Regions from separate parts of the Homo sapiens genome. Here regions 2, 3 and 4 are each reported to be linked to region 1. Evidence: microRNA targets listed by miRTarBase, many of them from high-throughput screens and not tested one by one. Region 1 holds a microRNA gene; each other region holds the end of a gene's coding sequence.
The links. Region 1 holds the annotated microRNA hsa-miR-376b-5p (CGUGGAUAUUCCUUCUAUGUUU, at 3,442-3,463, opposite strand). A microRNA usually pairs through its seed, bases 2 to 8, with sites in the 3' UTR of a target mRNA and lowers its output. Matches are read on the target gene's strand: a 7mer-m8 pairs with bases 2 to 8, a 7mer-A1 pairs with bases 2 to 7 and ends in A, and an 8mer does both.

Region 2: miRTarBase lists FCAMR as a target of hsa-miR-376b-5p. Seed matches in the 3' UTR shown: 7mer-m8 at 3,089-3,095.
Region 3: miRTarBase lists CD86 as a target of hsa-miR-376b-5p. Seed matches in the 3' UTR shown: 7mer-A1 at 3,255-3,261.
Region 4: miRTarBase lists ZNF131 as a target of hsa-miR-376b-5p. Seed matches in the 3' UTR shown: 7mer-A1 at 915-921.

What each region holds. Positions count from the first base shown.
Region 1 is chr14:101,038,710-101,043,921 of GRCh38, reverse strand. MIR376B (microRNA 376b) reads right to left here and starts at 3,486; the gene lies at 3,387-3,486. MIR376C (microRNA 376c) reads right to left here and starts at 4,232; the gene lies at 4,167-4,232. It overlaps MIR376A2 (microRNA 376a-2), which reads right to left and starts at 3,853; the gene lies at 3,774-3,853. MIR654 (microRNA 654) reads right to left here and starts at 3,703; the gene lies at 3,623-3,703. It also overlaps MIR376A1, MIR300 and MIR1185-1.
Region 2 is chr1:206,955,244-206,959,243 of GRCh38, forward strand. FCAMR (Fc alpha and mu receptor) reads right to left here. Exons shown (of 8, transcript NM_001170631.2): 8 at 2,724-3,433. The coding sequence ends at 3,273. Among named protein-coding and RNA genes, the nearest start is that of PIGR, 11 kb to the left of the region's middle.
Region 3 is chr3:122,118,476-122,123,687 of GRCh38, reverse strand. CD86 (CD86 molecule) reads right to left here. Exons shown (of 7, transcript NM_175862.5): 7 at 2,552-4,250. The coding sequence ends at 4,154. Among named protein-coding and RNA genes, the nearest start is that of CASR, 63 kb to the left of the region's middle.
Region 4 is chr5:43,174,820-43,178,819 of GRCh38, forward strand. It overlaps ZNF131 (zinc finger protein 131), which reads left to right. Exons shown (of 7, transcript NM_001330707.2): 7 at 1-1,503. The coding sequence ends at 314. Among named protein-coding and RNA genes, the nearest start is that of NIM1K, 15 kb to the right of the region's middle.

The DNA of each region.
Region 1 (5,212 bases):
AGCTACATGGACAATGGAACCATCACCTTTCTCCAAAGGGGCACAGGGTGTGAGGGCTCAGCCCGGCAAGACATGGAGTTATCAGAGAAGAAGGCATCTGCAGGCATTCTCAGAGCTGGAGAGCGCTGAGACAATGTCTCTCCTCTGAGGCTGGTTGTCCTAGAGATGACCAGATCCAAGAATGTGTCACCTGTACCTACCTCGAAACAAACAAAAAGAGGGCCCCAGCGTCAGACTCTAGCGACAAAGGAGTCCTGAAGACCAGACACACCTGCCCAAGGCACACTCAGGTGCAATCACTGGACAATGTGCTCCGAGGACTGGCCATTGGAGTCCAGCGACAGTCCCAGAGGGCACAGGCAGGCTCAGGGAGCTCCACCAGTAACTTGCCTTAGAACAACCTGACATCCATGTGCTTCCCTCAAGGCTGACACTCTCTCAAGGATGGAGACCACCAGGGAGTGGCAGGTCAGGGGAGTAGCAGGTGAGAAGCAGCATCAGCTCTGCGCTCCACCATCCACCACCCATTCGTGTGTCCGGAGAGGTGCGAGGTTAGTGCTGGACGCAGGAAGCCCTCTGGGTATGACTTGGTATGGAGAAGAGGCAGATCCATGTGATTTATCCTTAAAAAAAGCAAACCACCATTAAACTCAGTGCACACAAAAAGGACCCTCCTCTCCCACTGCCTCCAGGGAGTCCACAGGAAGAACCAGCACAGAGAGCGAAGGCAGAACCCAAGGGCTAGGATCACAGCCAAGCTCACGTTCCCAGACAGGGAAGCCAAGCCGTACCTGAGAGGGGCTGACATCCGAGGCTTTGTCCTGGAGACAGCAGGGTCTGAGCGTCTTCCTCGACAGAGTTTGATACGCAAATAAGAGTCTCCCCCTGTATATTCGCCATTAATCAAGTGAACATACAAAGGGTATCCTCTCTTCAAGTACCAAAGAGTGGCTCAAAGAGCAGGTGAGGACTATGCCGGGTCTTCGCCGGAGTGGACATCTCCTCCTGCGAGGCCTGAGACCAAGGGGGAGGGGCCAGGTGACAAGCCTCATCTGGCTGGCCCTGGAGCTGGGGCCTGCCATACAGTTGACTTTACTTCCCAGCATCTCTTCACGACAGGATTGGTTACCAAAAGACAGGCAATCCTGTACCATTTGAAATAATGTAAATGTAAAATGGCTGAAATCCCTTTAGGGCCTGCAAAAACACCCTGGGAGAAGAACCTCTGCCTCTGCCCAAAGCCACTGCCTCCAGGAAGCCCTCCTGGTGAACACTGGCTAAGGGAGGTTAGAAGATGCAGTCACATGCATCATTAAAGAAAAAAGAGAAACAGAAATCCAACGCACTCCGTTTGCAAATCACAAAGCAGCACTATGACAAGTGTCCCTTCTCCTGAATTTGGCATTGTATTCAGAAAGCCATCTGAGCAGTTAGTTGTTACTCAGAAGTATTCATCTAGGGCAAGATTCGTCAAAGGAAAATGAGATTCTCATGGGCCAACTCTCTCTGAATAAACACATGCTAACACCAGGAATCCAAGGGTCTTTCCATTGGCAAGAATCCCTAAAGGACACCAATGGACTAAGAGAGCAGTGGGGCTTAGAGGTCCCAGCAGCAAGTCCTGTAGCCACACTGGGTGCTCTGGGGCCTCCTTCCTGTGGACTGGCCTTCCCTCAAGTGGACAGTGAGGTCCAAAAGTCACTCCAAGGATGGGCTAGGTATGGAGAGTGGGTAGACCAGATGACCCACATCTACATTAGACATTGACTTTGCTGACGGTCATTCTTTCATGTATCTGGGAGATGCACTGACCACGAGACCTCTTCTCAGAGGCTGGCATCATGCTGGGCAGACCTGCCGGAGTAGCAGCCCATGGATGCTTTGTGATAAGTAGGGCCCATCAAGGGAGGCCCTTTGTTCTTTTCTTTTTTTTTTAACCTATTGTGTTGAGACAGGGGTCTCTGTCAGCCAGGCTGAAGTGCAGTGGCACAATCTTGGCTCACTACAACCTCCCAACTCCCGGGCTCAAGTGATCCTCCAGCCTCAACCTCCTAAGTACTGGGACCACAGGCGCACACCATGACACCCAGCTAATTTTTGTATTTTTTGCAGAGATGGGGTTTCGCCAAGTTGCCCACGCTAGTTTCGAACTCCTGGGCTTAAGCCATCCACCGTCTCAGCCTCCCAAAGGGCTGGGGTTACAAGCGTGAGCCACCGTGCCCGGCCAAGGTAGGCCCTTTTTGCTAGGCAGAACAGGTGGTCTGAAGAGAAAACCCTATATCATCTCCAAAGCCAGCATCTCTTCCAGAAAGTTCTTGGAAGGAAGCATGAGATGAGGAGGGTCAGAGAACCAGGTCACAAACAGCAAGACAGAGGCACATGCCCTGTGGTCAACCATCCACACCCCAGGGCTATCCTGGCCATCTAACAGGTTGCTGGAGTCAGCCTTGTTCCCAAGAAGGCTTCCCAGGCAGGATTTGCTCCCCAGAGAGAGTCTGCCCTTGTATAATCATTGCAAGTAAAGCAAATGCGTGAAGGATTACCTCTCTTCAAGTAGCAAATGATGGCAGTGACAGGAAGGCCATTTCCTCTGTGACTAAGTTGCCACCAGCTCCAGGAGCAAGCCTTAGAGACACAGATGGGATCTGCATGGTGAGAGCAGCACACCGAGGTGTGAAGTGCAGGCCCGTGGGTGAATCACACATCTATTCCTTCCATAGCCCCTGAAGCAGTGCCCCTTCCTGAAATTGACAGCCCACTCAGGTATTCTCTAAGGTACAACTAGTCACAGTAAAAGAGGTTCATTCCAGAAAATGCATTGCAATCATGGTAAACATACAGAGAACAAACTTCATTCAAGGTCAATGAGGCAATACTGAGAACACAGCCTTGTAACAACACATTATGTGTGCACCAAGGGCAGTGAGCAAACAGCAGAGAAGCTGACGGCGTATTTCATACAAAGTACAATTCTGTGTCTGTCCGTCCTGTACCCAGGAGGGGTACAGATAACATCTCCTCTTCCATGGCGACTTCACGTCCTCCGAGGTTTTCAAAGCAGCATTTGATACTGAAAACGTGGATTTTCCTCTATGATTAATCATAAATAATGTACTCATAGAAGGAGAATCTACCTTTTAAATACCAAAGAAGGATTCCATCCAGGAAAGCGTGCACCTGTGCTTGAGTCATCAGAAAAGAAAGTCACATGAGGCAGACGAGCTTCCAGGGAAGAACTGGCACCACGAGACCCACAATTTAATCTTCACCAAGTTGGCGTCTCGAGATGGTTCTCGGGCATACCCCGTTCATTCAGATACGACGTGCGGCCTACCATCTTTGCACCTACTCAGGCCCTACGGTCTCTTCCAGAAACATTTCCAAAGCAGCATTTGATACTGAAAACATGGATTTTCCTCTATGATTAACCAGGAATCACGTAAACATAGAAGGAATATCCACGTTTTAAATACCAAAGAAGGACTGGGCTCTGGAAAGGACAAATCTGAACACAGTTCATGGAAAATGGAAGCAAGACAGTAAAGCAACCGTTTTCAGTCCCGTAGCATAGCTGTGACAACACACCACAGCCTGTGCACCAAGCTGGCTCCTCAGCGAAAGGGGGCTTCTAAAGGTGATGGTCAGCAGACATATGGCACGAACTCAGCACATGTTCTGCGGCCCACCATCTTTCCACTTACCCTGGAGGGCTCAGCCCCACCTCACGTCCCTGATGGTGGCTTCAGTCCAGCCATGATCCCAAGGCAGCATTTGATACTGAAAACGTGGATTTTCCTCTATGATTAACCATCAAACACGTAACCATAGAAGGAAAATCTACCTTTTAAATACCAAAGAAGGTTTCATCCCGGAAAGCACGAACCTAAGTACAATCCATCAAACACAAAAGTAACATAGCACAGAGGAGAGCATTCGGCCTCATGGAGAAAATGACGACGGAGCCCAGCCGCTTGGCCGAGCGGGCAGCTTGCGAGAGGGGTCTCCTCAAGGCGGGTGGGTGGTCCGCAGACATATGGCACGAATTCAGCACATGTTCTGAGGTCCACCGACTTTCCACTTACCCTGGAGTGGGGGGGGGGACTTTATTGTCTCTTCCCTGATGGTGGTTTCAGTCCAGGAATGTTTCCAAGCAGCATTTGATACTGAAAACGTGGAATTTCCTCTATGTTTAACCATAAATAACATAAACATAGAAGGAATATCCACCTTTTAAATACCAAAGAAGGATTGAGTCCTGGAAAGCATGAACCTAAGCACAATCTATCAAAATTAAAGACAGCACAGGATAGGTGCAGTCGGCAGGGGCCTCCCGGGCTAGCGGCAGTGACATGGGCCCTGCGGAGGACGCATGTCCCAGGACAGACCTTGCTAACAAGAGCTTAGGTTCTGGGATTCACCTTCCATCACTCTCCGCATGGGGGAGGGAGCTAACCTTCCTCTCAGAAATGTTCAGAAATGTTTTAAAAGCAGCCTTAGATACTGAAAATGCGGATTTTCCTCTATGATTCACCATAAATCCTGTAAGCATAGAAGGAACATCCACCTTTTAGATGGGAAAAGTGGGAACAGCCCTGGAGAGCACAAACGCAAACATGATTCATGAAAGACAGAAGGTAACAGAAGCAGGTGAGCACTTTGCGAGTCCCACGTGGGAAGCGCAGGGCCCACCCCTGGCCTCTTCACATCCAGAGATGGAACTCCTATGCAGGCAAACGTAAGTTTGGGGTCTGCCCTGCTGTCACTCGTCTGGGTGGGGGTAACCCTAATGTCTCTTCCCTAATGGAGGCTTCATGGTCAAGAGCGTTTCCAAAGTAGCATTTAATTCTGAAAAAAAAAAAAAAAAAAAGTGAATGTACATCAAAAATTTGCCACAAGTAAAGCAGGCAAAGTAGGGATTCTATGCTTTGAATTCGAAAAATATCAAAAACAAAAAGAAAATAAGCCTGTCAGGTTCCTAAAGTCACATCGCCTCCATGAAGCCCTCCCAAGGCACCTAATGACCAATGTCATGTAACTGTGGGCTGGAGCATCCTTCACATACCTTGGAGGGAGAAGGACACCCAAGAATCTTCCAGAGACTGAAGCTTGTGTCCAGAAAGTTTCAATCGGCAGGACTGGTCATGTTGGTGTGACAGACTGAGGAATAGGCAAACAGGTCAAAAACAATGTCTCTTTAAATACAACTGAGAGA
Region 2 (4,000 bases), not on the chromosome of region 1:
ACACGTTAACAAGCAGTAGCAGCGTTAGTAAGTAACAGTGTAAAGTGAACTGCAGAAATGCACCCGAACCTGAGAATCTGCTTGATCTTGTGAAAATCAATGGTCTCCCTGCATCCTCGATTAGATTCTAATCCTAAGTTAGAAATCCCCAGGGAGGCTTCCCTGATTCTGGCCTAGGGATAGATGTTTGCCTGCCCCTCATCTCAGTGGTATAGGCATCATGCTAGCCGGAGGTATAAGATGAAAAACAACAGCACTGACAATACCAAGTGGTGGAGGTGGCCTCCTCTGCCAGTTTGGCCTCTGGCCCTTTAAATCAACCCTCCTGACTACTCCATGGATCAGTTAGCCCATAAAGGAGAGCTGTGAACACTTGGGGCTTCCCCGCTTCTCTCCCTGAAAGTTCTTACTCAGATCTTATCTCTGCCCCCTCCAAACTCTTGGCCCTGGGACTCTAATCTGGCCCTGCCCTGGCCTTTTGAACTCTTACCAGCTCCACCTCTGGTGGAGCTTAACTTTCCCTATAACGGCCTCCCTGCTAGAAACGCTCCTGGCTCTAGCCACGTGGCCAACACTCTTGCTGGGCTGGTTGTCTCCTCCCTCCCCTTCTTCCCCCAAGATGGGGTAGTCAGACAGAACATTCTAGCTGCTGAATTCCACAATGAAAGTATTAGAGCCGTTTGGAGGAAGGAGAGGTCCTGGAGAAAGGTGGTCAGGGAAGCCCTTGAGGAAGAATAGGATCTGATCTCCAGATCCGAGTGGGAACAAAAGAGTCCTGTACAATTTCATGGCTTAGTCCAGGGACTGGCAGATTCTGGCTCAAGGGCCAAATCCAGCCTCCCTCCTGTTTTGGGAAATAAAGTTTTGTTGGAACACAGCTGCGGTCATTTGTTTCTCGATTGCCTGGCTGCTTTTGTGCTGCAACGGCAGAACTGAGTAGTTGCCATAGAGACTGTATGGCCTGCAAAGCCTAAAATGTTTACCATGTGGCCCTTTACTGAAGAGTTGGCCAACCCCGGGTTTAGTGCATCAGGCTTCCCCAAACAGTGATGTGAGGAACTCCAGCCCCTTGGGACTGCTTCAATCAAACACAATAATCCAACACATCTGGGAAACACACATTATGTCCCCATCCCGAGGTGTGAAAACCCAGGGTGTTTCACAATACACCTCCATATAGCAAAGGCTCCAAAAGATCCTGCATAGAAGAATGTTTGTGGTTTCCCAGCATTTCCAAAACTTCATTAATCTACCAAACCTCCTTTTCCTCAGAACACCTTTTCACATCCTGAGAATCTAGCATTAGAAACAGTCTGGGTGCTGGGCCCATCCCTGCCACAAATGAGAACCAATTCCTGGGAATGATCATGAAACCTTCCATGCACAAGCCTAAGAGAGAGAGAGAGAAAGAAGTGAGCCTTTAGAGCTTTACACAGGAAAGGACCTGACCAGATACCTAGATCATAAATCCAAGCAAGGGGCACGGCGATCCAGAACATAGCTGTGGAGGTGGGCTGCTCCGAGTGGCCTTTGCTGAAGTACACACCTTGCAGAGCCTGCTCCCTCATTGGTTGAATAGGATCCATGATGTCTGTCCTATCTCCGTTACAGGATTATTTGGGGCAGGTCATTGAGAAAGCGAACAGGAAAATAGTCTCGAGGGACGACTGTGGTATCCTTGATTTTTGACAGTGAGTTTTGCTTTGGTACAATGCTCAGCAATGGTGAAGTGAAAAAGGCCCTGAACCAAGGTCACGAGTTCTCTTTGCTAGTCCTCACAGTGCTATAACTAACTGGGTTAACTGGGTGACTTTAAACAAGCGCCCCCCACCTGTACCCTTAACCCTGTTGGGCCTCAAGTCCCTCTCTTCTAGAATGAGGATATTAGACTAATCTCTAAAGATCTGTTAGCTCTGAAATTCTGCGATTCCATGTGGTTAGATGTGTGCAATTTTCCTACTTATCCAAAACAACAGGTTTCTCTTATAAGCCATAAAACCGGCATCTCCTTGATTTTCTTTGTACAGTGTCTGTGTTCAGAACCAGATATAAGGGGGTATTACTGAAGGATTTCTGTGCTGCTGACAGCTTAGAAGGCAGGACTAAGCCTTCTGGAAATGTCTACCTGGCAATTCTCAACTCGATATTGGTGCCTATTTTTCCTTTCTGCCTCCACCGCTCAGGCTGTTCCATCCAACAATGGAGCCCAGACAGTTTGCCAGCGGATCTGGCAAAAGAAAATAGTGGATGTGATTCCTGGAAAGGCAGTGGGGCCTAGGGTGGAGCGAAAGTTCCCTGACAAGCATGAGGTGATGTAGTTACAGGGCAGAATCCACATAAAATTCCTCTCTTTTGTCTCCCACCTCACCCCCAAAAACCATTTTCCAGCTTCACCAACAGTCCTCCATATCGAGGATTTATAAGCAGCTGAACAAGAGGGCCTTTATGAAGAAAGCAAGAATCTACTGAAAATACCCTGCTCCTCCATGAATGTAGGAAAATCCCAGAAAATCTTGGCCGGGTCAAAAGGTCTACGGCACAATAAGCCTGGGTCCAAATGGGGCGGGATGATGTGAGGAATGGGTGTTTGCCCTTTTGATCTCAGCGGAGAAACCAGCTGCCTGTGGGGTCATCTAGGGGACTCCCAAAAGGAGGGGCAGAAGCCCAGGGGGACCCAGAGTTCTTGCAGAGGAAGGGTGCCTAGAGGCCACTGAGCCCCCAAGTCAATCAGACACAGGTATTTATTGGGGTCCTACTGAGTTGGAAGTTCTCTGGGGGCATCATGAGACAGATAAAATGCAATTACTGCCTTAAAGGAGCTTAGAATCTACTTGAGAAGGCAAGGCTGGTACACTTAAATATAATACATGTGAATGGGAGGCTGAGTGCTAACAGTAGTCAGAAAAGGAGCCCCCAGCAAGGGCTGGGAGTGTTGATAGGGGATTTGTCACTTTCCACACTGATTGGAAGCCTCTTCTATTTTCAAACATTCAGGAATGGAAATTTCATGCTTTTCCTAGGTGACCTCTTCCAGTGTTTCATACACTGTTCTTGAAGTCTCCTTTGAGTCATCTTGTCACCTTTGGACGTGGATAATGCTTGACTTTCTTGGGCCCAAGGACAGCCAGCCTTTCTTCCATGGGTGGAGCACCGGCTGCATCAGCTTCTCTTCCCACAGGTGGAGGAAGGATGATGGAAAGAGGCTGGGGTCCTGAAGGCCTTTGATCTTGGTCCTTCTCCCATGGTAACTGAGCAGTTCATCTCTCTGTCCCTCAGGGTCCTGGATTTCTCTCTGGGGCAGTCAGGCTGGCCCCAGCAGGAAGAGAGTCATCCTGGAGCATCTTTCTTTCCACATGGGGCAGCTGGTCTGCTTGGGGGTTCACTTCCAGAAAATGTGTCATCTGAATTAAGGTGACCCTTTCTGCCTCCTGAGCTGCAGAGACACAGAGCAGACTGTGAGGGTTCTGGGTAAGGACAGCACTGACTTTGATTTCCTAAGAACCACTCCCAACCACTGCAAGTTTTCAAGAACTTTCTGACACAGAAGCAATGGAGCCCTAGTTGGCTAGGCTAAGCCAGCCTAGCCCATGATAGGGCTTGGACTTCGGGGCCTGGGTCTGAGAACCTTAGCCTCCTCCACTTGCTGCCAGAAAATCTCACCCTTTCTTCACTAGGTGTACATATCACAGAGCCCTCACTTTAAGAGTACTTAAACCTGGGCATGTTGCTCTCAGAGAATTTTAGCTGGGCTTTGCCAAAGGGGGAAAATGCGAGGTTTGATCCCAGGTCTGGGCCCTGCACTCCTGCTCTCTGCTGTGAGGGTTGCTTATGAGGCTTATGGTTAACATAGGCATCACAGCCTTTGTAATCTTCCAGGAGCTTCTCCTTGTGCTCTGGGATGCCATTGACACGTAAGTACAGAGATAATTTCTAATTTTATTGATTAAAAACCAAGGCAGTTTGGGCAGAGTGGCTCACGCCTATAATCCCAGCAATTTGG
Region 3 (5,212 bases), not on the chromosome of region 1:
GATGGGGACACAGCCAAACCATATAATTTCACCCCTGGCTCCTCCCAAATCTCATGTCCTTACATTTCAAAATACAATCATGCCTTTCCAACAGTCCCCCAAAGTCTTAACTCATTCCAGCATTAACCCAAAAGTCCCAAGTCCAAAGTCTCATCTGAGACAAGGCAAGCACCTTCCGCCTATGAGCCTGTAAAATCAAAAGAAAGTTAGTAACTTCCTAGATACAATGGGGGTACAGGCATTGGGTAAATATACCCATTCCAAATGGGAGAAATTTGCCAAAACAAAGGGGCTACAGGCCCCATGCAAGTCCAAAATCCAGTGGGGCAGTGAAATCTTAAAGCTCCAAAATGATCTCTCTTTTGTCTCCATCTCTCACATCCAGGTCATGCTGATGCAAGAGGTGGGCTCCCATGGCCTTGGGCAGCTTGGCCTCTTTGGCTTTGCAGGGTACAGCCCCCTCCTGACTTCCTTCATGGGTTGGCATTGAGTGTCGGTGACTTTTCCAGGCGCATGGTTGGTGGACCTACAATTCTGGGGTCTGGATGATGGTGGCCCTCTTCTCATAGCTCCACTAGGCAGTGCCCCAGTGGGGACTCTGTGTGGGGGCTCCAACCCCACATTTCCCTGCTGCACTGCCCTTGCAGAGGTTCTCCATGAGAGCTCTACCCCTGCAGCAAACTTCTGCCTGGACATCCAGGTGTTCCCATACATCCTCTGAAATCTACGGGGATGTTCCCAAACCTCAATTCTTGACTTGTGTGCACCTGCAGGTTCACTGTGCTGAAGCTGCCAAGCCTTGGGGCTTGCACCCTCTGAAGCCATGACCTGAACTGTATCTTGGCCTCTTTTAGCCATGGCTGGGATGCAGGGCACCAAGTCCCAAAACTGCACAAAGCAGCAAGGCCTCGGGCCTGGCCAGGAAACCGTTTTTCCCTCCTAGGCCTCTTGGCCTGTGATGAGAAGGGCTGCTGTAAAGAGTTCTGACATGGCCTGGAGACATTTTCCCATTATCTTGGCAATTAACATTTGGCTCCTTGTTACTTATGCAAATTTCTGCAGCTGGCTTGAATTTCTCCTCAGAAAATGGGTTTTCTTTTCTATCACATTGTCAGGCTGCAAATTTTCCAAACTTTTAAACATAAGTTCCAATTCCAAACCATATTTTTGGGAATACATAAAACTGAATGCTTTTAACAGCACGAAAGTTACATCTTGAATGCTTTGCTGCTTAGAAATTTCTTCCACCAGATACCCTAAATCATCTCTCTCAAGTTCAAAGTCCCACAAATCTCTAGGGCAGGGGCAAAATGCCACCAGTGTCTTTGCTAAAACATAGCAAGAGTCACCTTTATTCCAGTTCCCAACAAGTTCCTCTTCTCTATCTGAGACCACCTCAGCCTGTATTTCATTGTCCATATTACTATCAGCATTTTGGTCAAAGCCATTCAACAAGGCTCTGGGAAGTTCCAAACTTTCCTACATCTTCCTGTCTTCTTCTGAGCCCTCCAAACTGTTCCAACCTCTGCCTGTTACAAAGCTCTGCCACTTACAAAGTTAACAATGTTGGGTAAATTACTCTGACTTATCTCTGTGTTTATATTTTCTCATCAGCATAATGGGCATAATATTCCATTACCTACGTCACAGGGTCATTGTGAGGATTAAATAGGATAATGAGTTTAAAGGTTTAGATGAGTGACGGGTATATGGTAAATGTGAAATAATGTTAGCTAGTACTATTCTGCCTAATGACCTCTTTCAACCTTCTTTTTCTTTCCCCTAGTCTTAGAATACAGCAGTTCAGAGAATTTAATATACAAAGGAGGGATGTTCTCACCAAAGGGCATGTTAATATTTCATTCAATCTTTAAACAGATATGTTTTGAGAGAACAAAAAAGAATTCTGAAAAGAATACATGATAGCAGAAATAAAAATACAACAGAAGTTAGAAGATAAAGTTGAGGGAATCTTTAAGAAATACAACAAAAGACAAAAAGATGGACAATAGAATAGACAACTATCTTAGTTGTCTGAGGATCCATTGGAGAGAAATTAAACACATTCCTGCCCTCACAGAGTCTAGGTAATTTTCTTTTTTCCAGAGTTTTCCTGGCTCCTCTCACATGCTGTATGTGTATATATGCATTTATTTTATAATCATGGTGTTTTCAAGGAATATTTTTACATTAAGCTTTTGTTTAATGTACATGTAAGTACATAATTAAAAAATTACACACTACAGGTTACAAACTCAAAAGTAAGCTTCCCTTCCTTATTCCAGATTTCTTAGTTGTCCTCAAAAACAACCATTCTTACTTGATTTTTTATGACTTATTACTGAGATAAACATATAGAAGTATACAAGCCTCCTTTCTCAAATAATGGTAGGGAAAAGGGAGGAGGAGAAGATACAGGATGCGTGAGAGGCTTCTAGCCATAGAGATGTAAAGAGAAAGGAAGTACATTCAGAGGACAGAGCAGGGAACATCAGACCACAAGGGTTGAGTAGTACTCTTGAAGCCAAAGCAGAAAATGTAGACTTTTAAATGAATGTAACAAGCATTTATTAAAAACTGTGCTGCACAAAACATGTTAGAAACTAGCCAGGTGCTAGGAGTCTAATCAAGGCAGGGGCAGGGTAAAAACATGGGAATATTACATGGACAAGCTTGTCTAGCATGGCAGTCTATAACCCTTGAGGGTTTACATAAAATAAAGGAACATTTTTGTGGCTCAGGCTCCCCAGAGTTCTCTTTATGTTTGGGCAGAGACTGCCCCATCCCTTAGTGATCCCACCTTAGAGCCAGGTTTTCAAAGTCATTTCTCCCAGTATATCTGTCTCTGTATGCAAGTTTCCTCTGGTTGCCTTGAGCAAAAACAATCATCCAACTCAAATTTGCTAGCCCTATGCTGGGCCAGCCCACGTTCCCGTAGGACATCTGTAGGCTAAGTAAGCCCCGGGTGATCTGTGTCTTGGTCTTCCTAATTCCGTTGCAGCTCTTCCTCTCTCAGCCAGGAGTGGAAAGTCCTAAGCCTCCTTCCATTCATCCCATTATCAAGGTGATGGCTCTCCCTCCCCAGCTCTGCTTCCAGGAAGATGACATCCCAATAACTTGGGTATCACCAAAACCCCTCCCTGACCACCAGGGAAACTGCTGTCTGTCTTATGTCCATTTGGACAGACTATCCATCTGTTGCTTGTTTCAAGACTTGTTGATGGGGTGGACAGACCAGACATTTCATGTATTTCTGTGGATCAAGATCTCTCTTTTTTCTCTCTCTCTCTCTTTTGAGTATTGTGATCTCTTTTGGTTCTTTCACAGCTTCCCCAGGCCATCTCACTAGTCAGTTCTTCAAGAGAAACAGGGTTCACAAGCTCTGGCATTTTCCTGTTTATTCAGTTCTCTCCACTATGGCTTGTTGGGTGGGGCAAGCCTCCTCAATATTAGCAACAGCCCAGATAGAAGTGGCTCCAGGTTCTATCTCTGCCTCTCCTAATTTCCCCAAATTTAGGTTGGTCTGCTCATTGTTGCCTGTACCCTAGGCCACCGTTTTCCTTACTGACCCTGACAGAGGGATGAGAACTCCTTAGCAGGGGTAGACTTTTCTCTAGAGCATAGTAATCACACTATTACAGTACATAGATCTCTATGTTTCAAGATATTAACACTATAAGGTCATAAATACATAAGTCCCACCCAGACTGAGGAGGTAGTTGTTTAGTCACAGGTACACACAAAATTCAGTGGGGCACCAGCTTAGAATTCTGGGCAGATAAAAGGCAGTTTTCCAGAAATTGAGAGGTCTATTTAAAAAAAAAACACAATCTATGAAATTAAGAGAAGAATCTGATCTGGAGGAGGTATTGGTCCTAAATTTTATTTCCAGGTCATGAGCCATTAAGCTGGGCTTGGCCCATAAGTGTGCTCTGAAGTGAAAAGAAGCAGTAAGAGAATTAAAGTCTCCTCTTGGCATACGGAGCAGAGCTGGAGTTACAGGGAGGCTATTCCACTTAGAGGGAGTCCTGGAGCCCCCTTATTACTCATGGTAATGTCTTTTTGCCTTCTGGAAGAAATCAAAAAGGTTGCCCAGGAACTTACAAAGGAAAGGGTAGAAAAAATGAATACTTGTATGGGCTTTACTCTTTAATTAAAAACATGTATCACTTTTGTCGCATGAAGATGTCTTCGAACTTTTAAAAACACGCTGGGCTTCATCAGATCTTTCAGGTATATGGATTTTTTCTCTGGAGAAATAGAAGAAAAGATTAGGTGATATTTCACATTTGAGCTACTTTCTTTTTCTAGATTTCAATGATAGGGCAGAATAGAGGTTGCCATTGGAACAGCAATGAGGAGAAACAAACTATTGAAGAGAAAGGTGGAGAAAGCAAGAGAAAAGAACCACGGTCTACACTGTCATCTATGCTTCAAGAGCTACCCTTTATTTCTGCCTGGCCCTTCCCATGCCCTCTGCCGGTTCTCTGCTGCCTGCCCTCTGCAGGCTCTTCCAGACCATTTCTGAAACTGAGTGTGACAGGGTAGGCAGGATTTCAGCACCCTTTCTCATTGTCCAAGGGTGCCCGGAATTATTAGTTTTGTTGCTAGAATCACAGTGGCTGGTATATCTGGATTAGTGCTGGGTACTCTCGGTTGTCTCTGCACCCTGGGGGTTATGACCCTATCTCTGAAACCAGGCTTGTGACTGAGGGTTGCTTTGATCCTATGGGTATGCAGTCAGAGCCTTGATATTCCTGAGAGCTTAATTTCTCAGGAGGGATAGAGGTACAGACTATCTGATAGCTTCACGTTGTGAAAGGACTGATCACCACGAACTTTTATGTATTCATCATGCATCAATCATTCTTTCAACATTTATTGAGAACCTGCTATATGCCAGGCACCATGCTAAGTGCTAGCAGCACAATGATGAGCTTAACTGGTATGGTCTCTGCTCTTCATAGGATTTAGTTAAGTCTAGTTTATAGAGTTTAATAAGATAATTACACAAATATGTAAGCATAATCTGGTGTTATTAAGAAAAAGCCAAGGGATCCACATGACACTGTAACAAGTTGACATTTTCTAGTTTGGGAAAGGGTTTTTAAGAAAGTGCTGCTTGAGGCAAGATCTGAAGAATGAGGTAAAGAAGTGGCAGAAGAACATCTAAACAGGGCCATAGCAAATACTAAGATGCTCAGGCTGAAGC
Region 4 (4,000 bases), not on the chromosome of region 1:
TCCAAGTGAGTTATCTAGAAGTGGGCCGAATTCAGACTGAAGAAGGTACTGAAGTACATGTAGAGGAGCTGCATGTTGAACGGGTCAATCAAATGCCAGTGGAAGTACAAACTGAACTTCTAGAAGCAGATTTGGACCACGTGACCCCAGAAATCATGAACCAAGAGGAGAGAGAGTCTAGCCAAGCAGATGCTGCTGAGGCTGCCAGGGAAGATCACGAAGATGCTGAGGATTTAGAGACCAAGCCAACAGTGGATTCTGAAGCAGAAAAGGCAGAGAATGAGGACAGAACAGCTCTGCCAGTTTTAGAATGAAATTACACATGAATATATTTTTAAATTTACTTGTTGGGTTTTTGAACTGATTATGGGCAGTTTGACTGTCCTTAATTAAGCCTAACAGACAAGTGGACCAAAGTTAAGCTGTTTCCTGTTGTGCTGAACTGTTGTCCGTTGAAACACATTGATTCCCCTCCCCCTACTTATTGCCACAGAGGAGGGATCTTTTCCATAACTGAAGGGGAGTTTTGAGAAGTATATTTCTGGAAACTTAAATGGATTATATTCTTATTATATAGTTGGGTACGAATGTATCTATTTTCATTGTGGTAAAAGTTCTTCCTTTTCTCTTTCCCAGGTCATGTTCTTCCTCAAATTTTTTCCATATTGTAAAATCAAACTTAAATCATTAGAATACAAGTTTATGTATTCTAATGCATGTTAGAAAATTGAATAATATAGGAAACACAAGGCTGCATGATGAAAAGTGCATTGTTACTGTGCAGTTAAATTTTGGCTTCTGGCTTTCTTTAGTTTGAACAAACGTTCTTGTCTACCCCAGTAGTCACAGATGCCATCTTTGCAACAGAAAGAGTGGTGGTGGCAAAATTTCTAGAATGTTAAAAAAAAAAAAAAATCCACACCCATGTGCCTTCTCAAAACCAACTGAACTTCTATAAAGCATCTCTGGTTCTTTCAAAGTTTGTGTTGTAAGGAGCAATGTAGATGATGCTATAATACTTTATATTTTTGGTTATAATGACAACCACCAGTTCTTTTTCACTTAAGTTAGGTTGAGAAATTTTATTTAATGGCCACTGAAGGGCCATTTTCAATTGGGAAAATTTATTTACATCTGTGGTAAACTTTATTTTGATGAAAAGTTGCACTAGTATTTTACCACCAGATGAGAAAAAGATGAGCAGCATTTAAAAATTAATGTATTTAAAATAAAGTACAGAGAAAGACATGTATATAATTATCAGGCTTTGTTTTGAATGGAATCTTTTCCCCCAATTCTTAATGTAAAGATCTTGTGCTATAACTTTTAAAGCCATACAAATAAGAGTGCTAAACTGTGGACTTAAAAGTAGGTGTGTAAATATTTTTAATCAGTATTACTTGGAAAATAAAATATAACAAACCCATAGACCAATATGCTATTTTTTTTACCTGTTAAATATTGGGAGTTCTTTACATTTTTTAAGTAAACTTTAAAATTATGTGTTCATGACTCTTTTTTAAAAAATTACCAGCGTGAAAGTTTATATCTGGGCAGAGATAGTTCCTCATGTGTCTTTACCCGTGTTAACATGACTGATGCATGAATTGTGATAAATTTTCCATCACACCTCCAACCCCCCAAAATCAGCTCAAAAGCATGGAAGTAGTTCATATTCTTTATGCTAATAGTTCTTACATGGTAGGCACAATAGCAGGAATTCTCCACTTAACTGTGTCAAATGTAAAAGACCAATGCGATTAGCCCCCTTTGGTAATCGTGACGTTAAATGGTATCACATTTACAAAAATACGCTGAAGAGAGTGGCTTCCCAGCATTGGAGAAGTCAGATTTAGATATAAATCTGGAGATAGAGCCAACCATTGTATTAAGGGGGCCACGTTTTTAAGATCAAAATAAGGGTATGAACACTTCCAAGTGTGTACTGTTTGGTAGTTGGGTATCTACTGCAAAGCTTATTTAACAGTATAGTTTTTATTTGAAATTGGAAAATACCAATAATATAATTAAATTATATCCCAGTGAATTTTCAGTTTGCCTTAGGATGCCAATGTTCCTGAGTTGTTTAAGAAAAAAAACCCTAACAGATAGTGGTCTCAAATATGTAAATTACTAGTTAGTATCTGGTGAATTTTGAATGCTGAAAATAGCGCATACTATGCCCTTAAGCTAAGGTATGAAACAAGGATTTTAAAACAAGAGTTCTGACCACAAGGTAAAGATCAAGGGCAAAGGTACATCAAAGTGTTAAAATTATTTGAGTTTTCACATTTGTCAAGACCTTTCGAGGTAGATTTGAGATGCAGATATAGTTCATTTTTCTTTTCCCAAAAGGTATAGAAGCTATCAGTGTACCCAGAATGCCAGTAAATTTGATTGCAAAAGTAGAGGAAAACTATCTACTGGTGATAAACTGTATGTTGAATAACATTTTGTAGTTGGAAAGCACTTTATGTAGAACATAAAACAGCTGTTAACAACTGATGTATATTTGCTTCAAGTACTGAAGCAAACTGGATATTTAGTCCTCCAGTGTTCTACTGTATTTGTACTGGAGTTTTAAGATAAGTCTACAGTATGAGGTACCAAGTTGGACAGTAGAGTGTGCAATGATGATCACATAGAAATAAGTCCCAAGTGCACTGAGAACGATGAGAGGCTTTTCTATCTCTACTCCGTTTCAACAGCAATTCTCAGACATCAATTGGGTGTCCAACAATTGAATCTGACACCACCCAGATTTAGAGCAAGTTAAGTGCTCAGTACCACAAAATTGCCCCCACTTCAGACACCAGCCACAAATGCGATCAACAGGCTACCCGCGCTTCTGCCCAGCCAACCGTAAATTTAGGGTTCTTATGGCCTTCCCATCCCCCCAAGTTCAATAATGCATTGAAACAACTCAGGAAAGCACTATACTTAACGACTACAGTAAGTATACAATTCAGGAACAGCCAAATGGAAGAGATGCATAGAGTAAGGTGGATGGAGGGGGTTGTGGAGGAGAATAGTAGAGGTTTCTCTGCCCTCACTTGGCATGCCACTTTCCCAGCATGTTGATGTGTTCAACTCAGAAGCTCCCTTACTGACATTTTATAACCTAGACTCATTAAATTATTGGCCTCCGGGCTCAATCTCCAGCCCCTCTTCTCCCTGGAGGTCTCGGGTGGGGGTAATAGTTGTAGCCCTTTAATACAACTGGTTCCTCTAGTGACCCGTGCCCATCTTGAAGCTATCTAGGGGCCCTCTGCCAGTAGTCATCTCATTAGCATAAACTGGTAAGATCAAAAGGGGCTTGTAATGAATAACAAAAGACATTCTGGAAATTACAAGGATTTTTGGAGCTGTGTGCAAGGAACCAGGGAGAAAAACCCAAATCCATTTTATTTGTTTTGTTTTTAGACAGTTTCACTCTTGTTGCCCAGGCTGGAGTGCAATGGCACGATCTCTGCTCACTGCAACCTCCACCTCCCAGGTTAAGGCGATTCTCATACCTCAGCCTCTCGAGTAGCTGGGATTACAGGCATGCGCCACCATGCCCGGCTAATTTTTTTTTTTTCAGTAGAGACGGGTTTTCACCATGTTGGTCAGGCTGGTCTCGATCTCTCGACTTCAGGTGATCCACCCACCTCAGCCTCCCAAAGTGCTGGGATTACAGGTATGAGCCACCGTGCTTGGCCTATTTTTTTTTTTTTTTTAATTACACCACACCTATCATTTGAGATTGAAAGAAAAACTAAACTGAATACATTAGCAATACATTTAAAAGCTAGACATCTTTTGGATATGTACAAAATCAGAAGGCTCTTGTAGTCTTACCAGTTTAAAAAGGCTACCTGGCTGGACACGGTGGCTCACGCCTGTAATCCCAACACTTTGGGAGGCCAAGGTGGACAGATCACCAGTTCAGGAGTTCGAGACCAGCCTGGGCCAACATGGTGAAACCCCCATCTCTACTAAAAATACAAGATGAACCAGG